Homo sapiens: one gene and its partner. The protein of the gene in region 1 purifies or fractionates together with the protein of each later gene. This does not show direct contact. Each region holds a gene or a part of one and is shown in the gene's direction. Other genes may lie near its edges.

Region 1 (5,287 bases):
GCACCCTACTAAATTCTGGGGCTAACAAGAGAATAAGAAAGCCGTCTGACATCACTCTTATGGGGCAGTACTTACCCTTTCGTAGGTCTTAGAGGTTTCTAAGAATGTGATAAAAATGTGTACATGCACATATTCGTTTTTCATGATTTTAGAGGATTCACAGGTGAATCCTGTAAAGAGAGAAAGAAAATAAAAAACCATGTGTAATGCAGTGTGACTTATTACCTCATTACCTTATTAACCTCACTCTGCATGTATGTAATAAAGTATGTAATACAGAGTGAGGTAATAAGGCCAGCAGATGAAGAAGTAATTATGCTTGGGGCATTGAGTTAAAGGGGTGATAATTGTTTTGAAAGACCTCAAAGAATGAGAAAGAAAACTATTTGGAGGTGGAAGAGGTCACTGCAGGCAAAGGTAGTAAAAGAGAAGACAGTGTGCAAATGCCCACTGTGTTTCAGGTTGTAGCTAGTGGTCCTCTATGGCCAGAGTTCATGGAAAATAAGATGCTCAAGTTAAGGACCGCACAGTGCCTATTTAGAGTCTATGGTGTGTTGTTTTGTCACCTGAATTCTTGGTGCCTTCACATTGTTCAAAATAATTTGCTCAGGAAATGTCACTCTTAGACGTGGCTGGTGGGAGGGTAGATTGGTACAACTCTGGAGAGAGTCCAGCAATATTTCTCAAATTACACATACCGTCTAGCCCAGAAATTCCAATTGCTGGAATTTAGCTATTATTTTATATGTGCAAAGTGGCATATATATGCCATATAGATAAGGATAGTCATTTAGTATGACATAATAGAAAAAAGCTTGGAAGCATCCTATATATTTCATTAATGGTGATTAAGTAAAGTGTGTGATACAAGTGTAGAATGGAGTATTAAATTGCCTTAAAAAATGAAGTGTTCTGTATCTGTAAGATAAAGAATGAATCACCAAAATACATAAAATGACAAAACTGGCTGGGCATGTTGGCTCACGCCTGTAATCCCAGCACTTTGGGAGGCTGAGGCGGACAGATCACCTGAGGTCAGGAGTTTGAGACCAGCCTGGTCAACATGGTGAAACACCGTCTCTACTAAAAATACAAAAATTAGCTGGGTGTGGTGGCGTGCGCCTGTAATCTCAGCTACTTGGGAGGCTGAGGCAAAAGAATTGCTTGAACCCGGGAGGCGGAGGTTGCAGTGAGCCAATATCGTGCCATTGCACTCCAGCTTGGGCAACGAGTGAAACTCTGTCTCAAAAAAAAAAAAATTCAAAACTCAGTTGTATATTTTTATGCACATATGTGTACAATATCTCTTAAAGGACATATAAGAGACTGTTGTTTGCCTCTGGGAAGGGAATTGGGGTCTGCAGGGGAAGGGGTGGCAGGGAGAGTTTCTCTTCTCTGCATATTCTTTTTTTTTTTTTTTCTTTAACAACACTCTGTAGTCCAGTGCTGCATATTCTTGTAGCTTTTGAAGTTTAATATCTGTTACATAATTTTCTACAGAGCAGCAGTTTTTGAGCAATTGTTATTTTGTTTTTGTCTCATCCCATTGCTCCTCAACCTGGGTCAGATGGAGCAGCCTCTTCAGTAAGCACGAAACATGCTCTCATCATGGATGAAGTAGATGGCATGGCAGGCAATGAGGATAGGGGAGGAATTCAGGTAATTCAAGTGCTGTATTTTTGCAGTTTCACTGTTGATAATTTAGATTGTTAGAACATTGTCATTCTCTCATACTTAGGGCAGTTAAGGCATGTTGCTGAGGAGATTTTTAGAACCTAAAATAGCTTGTGTGGTATTTGTCATTTTTAAAATAATTATTTTTGTGTTGCAAACTTGCCTTTCAGGAATTAATTGGCCTGATAAAACATACTAAAATTCCCATTATTTGTATGTGCAATGATAGAAATCATCCCAAGATTCGCTCTCTGGTTCATTATTGTTTTGATCTTCGTTTTCAAAGACCTCGGGTTGAACAGATTAAGGTATGATGATTGAAATTTTTTTTCCATCACACTAGCCTATTTATTTAAGGGTCAATTTTTAAAAGTACCTGATAAATATTTTTAAAATACCTGATTATATGAGTTAAAAATCATTGAGGACTCCTCCCTTGTCAATTTCAGGGTGCTATGATGTCTATTGCATTTAAAGAAGGTTTAAAGATTCCCCCTCCAGCTATGAATGAAATAATTTTGGGAGCCAATCAAGATATCAGACAGGTAAATTAAATATATATCATGTAACAGTTGTTGATTATTTTTAACTAATGCTTTCAACCTTGTAGGGATGGGGAGCAACAGGATTTTCCTATCTTGACGTTGTCTTATTTGTGATTCTTTTAGGTTTTACATAATCTGAGTATGTGGTGTGCACGAAGTAAAGCATTAACCTATGACCAGGCCAAAGCTGATTCTCACAGAGCCAAAAAGGATATCAAAATGGTAAAATAAATGTCCATGTCTTAGTTACTTTCCTAAGCCAAAACACTTCTTGTTCTGTAGGTAGCTTGATAGAAGTAGTTATTATAGTTCCTTGGTATGCCTGTGGAATCCAGGGATATATAGTAGGAAGTATAGACAGCTGCTGAAAGTGTTTCTAATTCAAATGATTTTTTTCTCAAAGATTGTCAATGTCAATTATAAATTTTGAGAAAGGGATAAATTTTAAATTATACTTATGCTTCAACAATTATAAAATGGCTTTTCCAGAGTTCTTTATGTTTGGCTTTCGTGTTTGGAATGGTTTTGCACTGTTCAGAATAATCCATGTCAAATGGTTTAGTTTAATGACCTCTCTGAAACTAGAGGTATGTATCAGTTTCCTCTGTGTTGTATTTTACCTAGTTGCTAATCAGAATTTATAGTTAGAGCAATGATTAAGCAGGTTCTAAAAAAGTTAATACACTTTCTTATTTATTTAAATTTTCAAAATTTTTGGTAGAGACAGGGTCTCGCTATGTTTCCCCGACTGGTCTTGAATTCCTGGCCTCAAGTGATCCTCCTGCTGTGGCCCCCAAGGTGCCGGGATTATAGGTGTGAGCCACCACGTCTGGCCTATACGCTTTATTTTTTAGAGCAGTTGAGGCTCAGGAGTTTGAGACCAGCCTGGCCAACATGGTGATCCATGCCTGGCCTATGGATTAAAAATGGAGTGGAAGGTACAGAGAGTTCTCACATACTTCATGTCCCCCTCACACGCACAGCCTCTCCCACTGCCAACATCCCCCACCACAGTGGTATATCTGTTACAATCGATGAACCTACAGTGATACCTCATTATCACCCAGAGTCCGTAGTTGACATTAGCATTCCCTCTTGGTGTTGTACGTTGTGTGGTTTTGACAAATGACATGTATTCACCATTGTAGTATCATACAGAATAGTTTCACTGTCCTGAACATCCTCTGTGCTCTACCTGTTCATTCTTCCTTTCCGCTTTCCTCCCTACAACCCCTGGCAGCCACTGATCCTTTCACTGTGTCCATAGTTTTGCCTTTTCCAGAATGTGGTATAGTTGGAATCATGTAGTATGTGGACTTTTCCAGTTGGCTTTTTTCACGTAGTAATGGCATATAAGGTTCTTCCATAACTTTTTTGTTTTTGTTTTTGTTTTTTTTGGTTTTTTTTTTTTCGGAGTCTTGCTTTGTCACCCAGGCTGGAGTACAGTGGTGTGATCTTGGCACACTGTAGCCTCTGCCTCCCGGGTTCATGTGATTCTCTTGCCTCAGGCTTCTGAGTAGCTCGGGTTACAGGCACCTGCCACCACACCTGGCCAATTTTTTATTTTTAGTAGAGACGAGGTTTTACTATGTTGGCCAGGCTGGTCTCGAACTCCTGACCTCAAGTGATCCGCCCACCTCAGCCTCCCAAAGTGCTCGGATTACAGGGGTGAGCCACCATGCCCTGCCCCCCCATGTCTTTTCATGGCTTGATAGCTCACTTCTTTTTAATGTTGAATAATATTACATTGTGTGAATGTACCACAGTTAAATTGTTTATTTACCTACTAAAAGGACATCTTGGTTGCTTACAACTTTTGGTAATTATAAATAAAACTGCTTGTAAACATCCTGTGCAGATTTTTGTGTGAACATAGTTTCATTTGGGTGAATACCAAGAAGCGTGGTTGCTGGATCGCGTGGTAAGAGTATGTTTAATTTTGTAAGAAACTACCAAACGGTACAGTTTTGCATTCCCACCAGCAATGAATGGAATTCCTCTTGTTCCATATCCTCGTTAGCATTTGGTGATGTTACCGTTTTGAATTTTGGCCATTCTAATAGGTGTGTCCCTCTCTTTTTTCAGGGCCCATTTGATGTTGCCCGGAAAGTGTTTGCAGCTGGAGAGGAGACTGCTCACATGTCACTTGTGGACAAGTCAGATCTCTTTTTTCATGATTATTCAATAGCACCCCTCTTCGTCCAGGAAAATTACATACACGTGAAGCCTGTAGCAGCAGGGTGAGTGTCCAGAGCTGGTGAGAGGTGTGCTTAGTATCCAGCACTGCGAAGGCTAAATACCCGTGAAGAAGGGACCTGGGGTGTGGAGAGTGGGATAATCCAGACTGGTTCTTTCCTGCAGGGGTGACATGAAAAAGCACCTGATGCTTTTAAGCAGAGCAGCAGACAGCATATGCGATGGTGACCTAGTGGACAGCCAGATCCGGAGTAAGCAAAACTGGAGTCTTCTGCCTGCGCAGGTGAGCAGAGGGCTCTCCCTAACATGCAGGCTCTGCTTTTACTAAGAGAACTAAATAGCTTTTAGCTGCTGTACTTATTTTATTTTATTTTGTTTACTTTATTTTTGAGATCGAGTCTCGCTCTGTTGCCCGGGCTGGAGTGTAGTGGTATGATCTCGGCTCACTGGAGCCTCTGCCTCCCGGGTTCAAGAGATTCTCCTGCCTCAGCCTCCTGAGTAGCTGGGACTACAGGTGCCCGCCACCATACCCAGCTAATCCTGTAGTTATTTTAAATACCAGATAAATGTTATGGCTCTTGTGGCAAAAATATAGTCTGTTACAGATTATAATACTCTGTGGTAACTATCGTCTGTTTCCTAATCTGGCCTTATTTTTCTTTTTTCTTTCTTTCTTTTTTTTTTTTTTTTTTTGAGACAGTGTTGCTGTGTTGCCCAGGCTGGAGTGCCGTGGCGTGATCTTGGCTCACTGCAAGCTCCGCCTCCTGGGTTCATGCCATTCTCCTGCCTCAGATTCCTGGGTAGCTGGGACTACAGGCGCCCGTCACCACGCCCAGCTAATTTTTTGTATTTTTAGTAGCGACAGGGTTTCA
Region 2 (4,393 bases), on another chromosome or scaffold:
GGGACTACAGGCTCCTGCCACTGTGCCCAGCTAAATTTTGTATTTTTAGTAAAGACTGGGTTTCGCCATGTTGGCCAGGCTGGCCTAGAACTCCTAGCCTCAGGTGATTCACCCACCTCAGCCTCCCAAAGTGCTGGGATTACAGACATGAGCCACCACACTGGCCTAAAACTTATCTTTAATGGCATTCACATTGCAGAGTAAATGATCTTACCAATAGATCATTTAAAGTCATAGTAGCTACATGTTTTAAGATATTTCATTTTATTTTGCTATAAATATCTTGCTTTGTGGCATATGTAAAATAATAGATAAAATAGATTTATTATATATAAAATAATAGAACATGTTAAAGTTTGGTTTTGGTTTTGGTTTGTTTTTTTGGTTTTTTTTGTTTTGTTTTGTTTTGTTTTGAGACACGGTCTCACCCTGTCACCCAGGCTGGAGTACGGTAACGTGACCACAGCTCACTGCAGCCTTGACCTCCTGGTCTCAAGTGACCCTTCTACCTCAGCCTCCTGAGTAGCTGGGACTAAAGGCATGCGCCACCACGCCCAGCCAATTTTTTAATTTTTGCAGAAACAAGGTCTCACTATATTGCCCAGGGTGTTCTTGAACTCCTAAACTCAAACTATCCTCCCACTTCAGGCTCCCAAAATGCTGAGATTACAGGTGTGAGCCACTACATCCAGCCTACAAATTTTTTTTTTTTTTTTTGAGACGGAGTCTTGCTCTGTTACCCAGGCTGGAGTGCAGTGGCGCTATCTTGGCTCACCACAACCTCCGCGTCCCGGGTTCAAGCAATTCTCCTGTCTCAGCCTCCCAAGTAGCTGGGATTACAGGCACTTGCCACCACACCCGGCTAATTTTTGTATTTAGCCAGGCGTGTTGGCAGGTGGAAACAGGGTTTCATCATATTGGTCAGGCTGGTCTCGAACTCCTGACCTCAGGTGATCCGCCCGCCTCAGCCTCTCAAAGTGCTGGGATTACAAGTGTGAGCCACTGCGTCCAGCCCTAGAAATGTTTTAATTATAATTATGCATCACTTAACAATAAGGATACATCCTGAGAAATACATCACTTTGCAAAAGTCATGGAGTATACTTACACAGACCCAGATGGTATAGCCTACTATACATCTAGGCTATATGGTATAACCTATTGCTCCTAGGCTACAACCTGTACAGCATGTTACTGTACTCAATACTGTAGGCAATTGTAACACAATGATAGGTACTGATGTAGCTAAACATACCTAAACATAGAAAAGTCACAGTAAAAATACAGTATTGCAATCTTATGGGACCCACCATCTTTTTCTTTTTTTTTTGAGATGGAGTCTCGCTCTTGTCACCCTGGCTAGAGTGCAATGATGCGATCTCGGCTCACTGCAACCTCTGCCTCCCGAGTTCAAGCGACTCTCCTGCCTCAGCCTCCCGAGTAGCTAGGATTACAGGCATGCGCCACCATGCCCAGCTAATTTTTTGTATTTTTAATAGAGATGGGATTCAGGCTGGTCTTGAACTCTTGACCTCAGGTGATCCACCCACCTCAGCCTCCCAAAATGCTGGGATTACAGGTGTGAGCCACCGTGCCCACCATCTTATATGCAGTCCATCATGACTAAAATGTCGTTATGCTGCACATGACTGTATTTATATTGTATACCTGAAGTTCTTTTTTAATGATTTATTTTTCAGGGTGGTCAAGACGTTAAAAAGAAAGTTCACCTAAGTGAAAAAATTCACCCTTTTATCAGGTCTGTTGGAAAAGTCTCCAAGCACTTTAAGGTGTCTGATTTACCGGCATGTGCCTTTAGAGTTACCTTGCTATCAATTTTCACTGCTGGGTAGCATTTTATAATAATAATAGCTATGGTTAATTGAGTGCCTATTTTATGCTGCAGTATTCCTAAAAGGTGCTTTACAGATGTTCTCATTGCTCTTCAAAAAAACCCCACAAGAGACTTGATGGTATCTCCATTTATAGATAAGGAAAATGAGTTTTAGAGAGATTTTATAATGAGCTTGGCATCACACGACAAGTTAGTTGTTAAATTTAGGATTCATGCCCTGGTCTGCCTGACTGTAAAGCCTACTCCAATGCTTTTTCCACTGAATTCACTACTTCTCTAGGATAGTGGAAAAAGCCTTATATTAGGAGTAAAAATTCCTATTCTGCCACTTACTATGATCTTGATAAAATATTGACAAAATATTGCTGCCTCCATTTCCTTATCTCTATGATGGGGAGAACAGCATGCACTCTACCTGTCTCACAGTTGTATCAATGATTAAGTGAAAGAGTAAATGTGATGCATATTTGTAAACTGCAAACATTATATGATTGTTGAGATATTAATACAAGCAATTCACAGTGGAAAGTGTAGGCTGCATCCCACATTCTACTACTGATGTATTATGGTGTCCTGGGTTGGTTACTTTCTACCCTTATTGCGTATATTAACCTTCTAAGTTGTGAGGTTTAAAAAGTAAACATTTCTTGTATACCCATTCTGTGCCAGGTTCTATGTCAGGTTCTTTTCCCTTAAAAGTGTCTCATTTAATTATCATAACCCTGCACAGGGTAGTATTCCCATTTTACCTAGTTAAGTTCTGAAAATGTCATGAAAATAAGCAGTAGTTTTCCCCACAATGGCAGCAATACCTATGTGGCATATGTGTTACTGATAGTGTTGGGACTCTGTTGTTATTGTTGTTCTTACAGAAAATCTATAAACATAATAAAAAAATACTTTGAAGAATATGCCTTGGTTAATCAAGATATTCTCGAAAATAAAGAAAGCTGGGATAAGATTTTAGCCCTTGTTCCTGAAAATATCCTTTCCCGTGATCATTTCTGTGTGAGCTAGTTGTTTTGATCTGTGATATTATAAATGTTAGACATGTCTGCTTGTAAGTTCTCATATACTTATAAGTTTAATCTTTTTTACACAAAATATCTCCTGTATTTCTGGATTTTAGTATCTCTGGTCTGGAACATAATAAAAAATGGGGCCATGTTGCAAATCAGTTTTCTCATTTTGGAAGTTGGTCCTAGAATTAACAGCTAAAGAATGGTGAATTACATAGTCAAAATACATGCAGACCAGGGAAAACTTTACATCATACCTTATAGTTATTTTGGCATTCTTTCTGTTATATCATCACTGTATTTTTACAGGGGAAGATTTCAATGATACAACTGGTGTTGGTTTGGTTTGGGGTTTTTTTGTTGTTGTTGTTGTTTTTAAGACGGAGTCTTATACTGTGTTGCCCAGGCTGGAGTGTGCAGTGGTGTGATCTTGGCTTACTGCAACCTCCGCCTCCCGGGTTCAAACAATTCTCCTGCCTCAGCCTCCCAAATAGCTGGGACTGCAGGCACACGCCACCACGCCCAGCTAATTTTTGTGTTTTTATAGAGACGGGGTCTCACCATGTCAGCCAAGCTGGTCTCAAATGATCCACCCACCTCAGCCTCCCAAAATATTGGGAATACAGGCATGAGCCACTGTGCCCGGCCGGATACAGCTGTTGAGTTTAACATTTGTGGGGTGGGTTGTTTTGTTGTTGAGATGGAGTCTCACTCTGTTGCCCAGGCTGTAGCACAGTGGCACAATCTCAGCTCACTGCAACCTTCACCTTGCAGATTTAAGCAATTTTCCTGCCTCAGCCTCCAGAGTAGCTAGGATTACAGATGTGCACCACCATGCCCTGCTGATTTTTCTATTTTTAGTAGAGATGGGGTTTCACCATGTTGGCCAGGCTGGTCTCGATCTCCTGACCTCACGTGATCCACCCACCTCTGCCTCCCAAAGTGCTGGGAGTACAGGCATGAGCCACCACGCCCAGTCAACATTTATATTTCAAGAAATGTTAATAACTACTTTCTGAATATTTGTAAGACACCCTTGTGGTAATACATACTTAAAACTAAATTGTTCATTGATGTTCCCTAAATGAGTCTGTTCCTTAATGACCCATCACCAATTCATGATGAACTTCAACAAAGCTTCCAAAAGTCTCACAATTCACTTCAGCGTTGGGAGCACTTGAAGAAAGTAGCCAGCAGATATCAGGTATATGCCACTGAAATCTGTATTACAGATATAATAATGCAATTCTTAATTAAATTGATTGCTTTGCCTAGTCAGTTAAAGATGGTTGAAGATCGTTTTTTTAACTTTCTTTAAAGAAATCTTCAACAGTTCCTACTGATCCTCATGTTGGCCTTGTATCTGCTTTTAGAATAACATCAAAAATGACAAATATGGACCCTGGCTGGAGTGGGAGATTATGCTCCAGTACTGTTTTCCACGGCTGGATATCAATGTCAGCAAAGGAATCAATCATCTACTGAAGAGCCCTTTTAGTGTTCATCCTAAAACAGGTAC

What was found. Proteins that work in one complex are often made in the same cells at the same time.
Region 2: the proteins of RFC1 (region 1) and PRIM1 fractionate together in Homo sapiens (co-fractionation; one large-scale study listed by BioGRID). This does not show direct contact.

The regions. Positions count from the first base shown.
Region 1 is NC_000004.12:39,299,432-39,304,718, reverse strand, and holds part of RFC1 (replication factor C subunit 1), read left to right. Parts: intron 1-1,567; coding exon 1,568-1,659; intron 1,660-1,844; coding exon 1,845-1,982; intron 1,983-2,123; coding exon 2,124-2,219; intron 2,220-2,342; coding exon 2,343-2,441; intron 2,442-4,304; coding exon 4,305-4,459; intron 4,460-4,580; coding exon 4,581-4,698; intron 4,699-5,287. UniProt on the Homo sapiens protein: Subunit of the replication factor C (RFC) complex which acts during elongation of primed DNA templates by DNA polymerases delta and epsilon, and is necessary for ATP-dependent loading of proliferating cell nuclear antigen (PCNA) onto primed DNA.
Region 2 is NC_000012.12:56,741,431-56,745,823, reverse strand, and holds part of PRIM1 (DNA primase small subunit), read left to right. Parts: intron 1-1,700; coding exon 1,701-1,759; intron 1,760-2,727; coding exon 2,728-2,837; intron 2,838-3,986; coding exon 3,987-4,078; intron 4,079-4,247; coding exon 4,248-4,389; intron 4,390-4,393. UniProt on the Homo sapiens protein: Catalytic subunit of the DNA primase complex and component of the DNA polymerase alpha complex (also known as the alpha DNA polymerase-primase complex - primosome/replisome) which play an essential role in the initiation of DNA synthesis.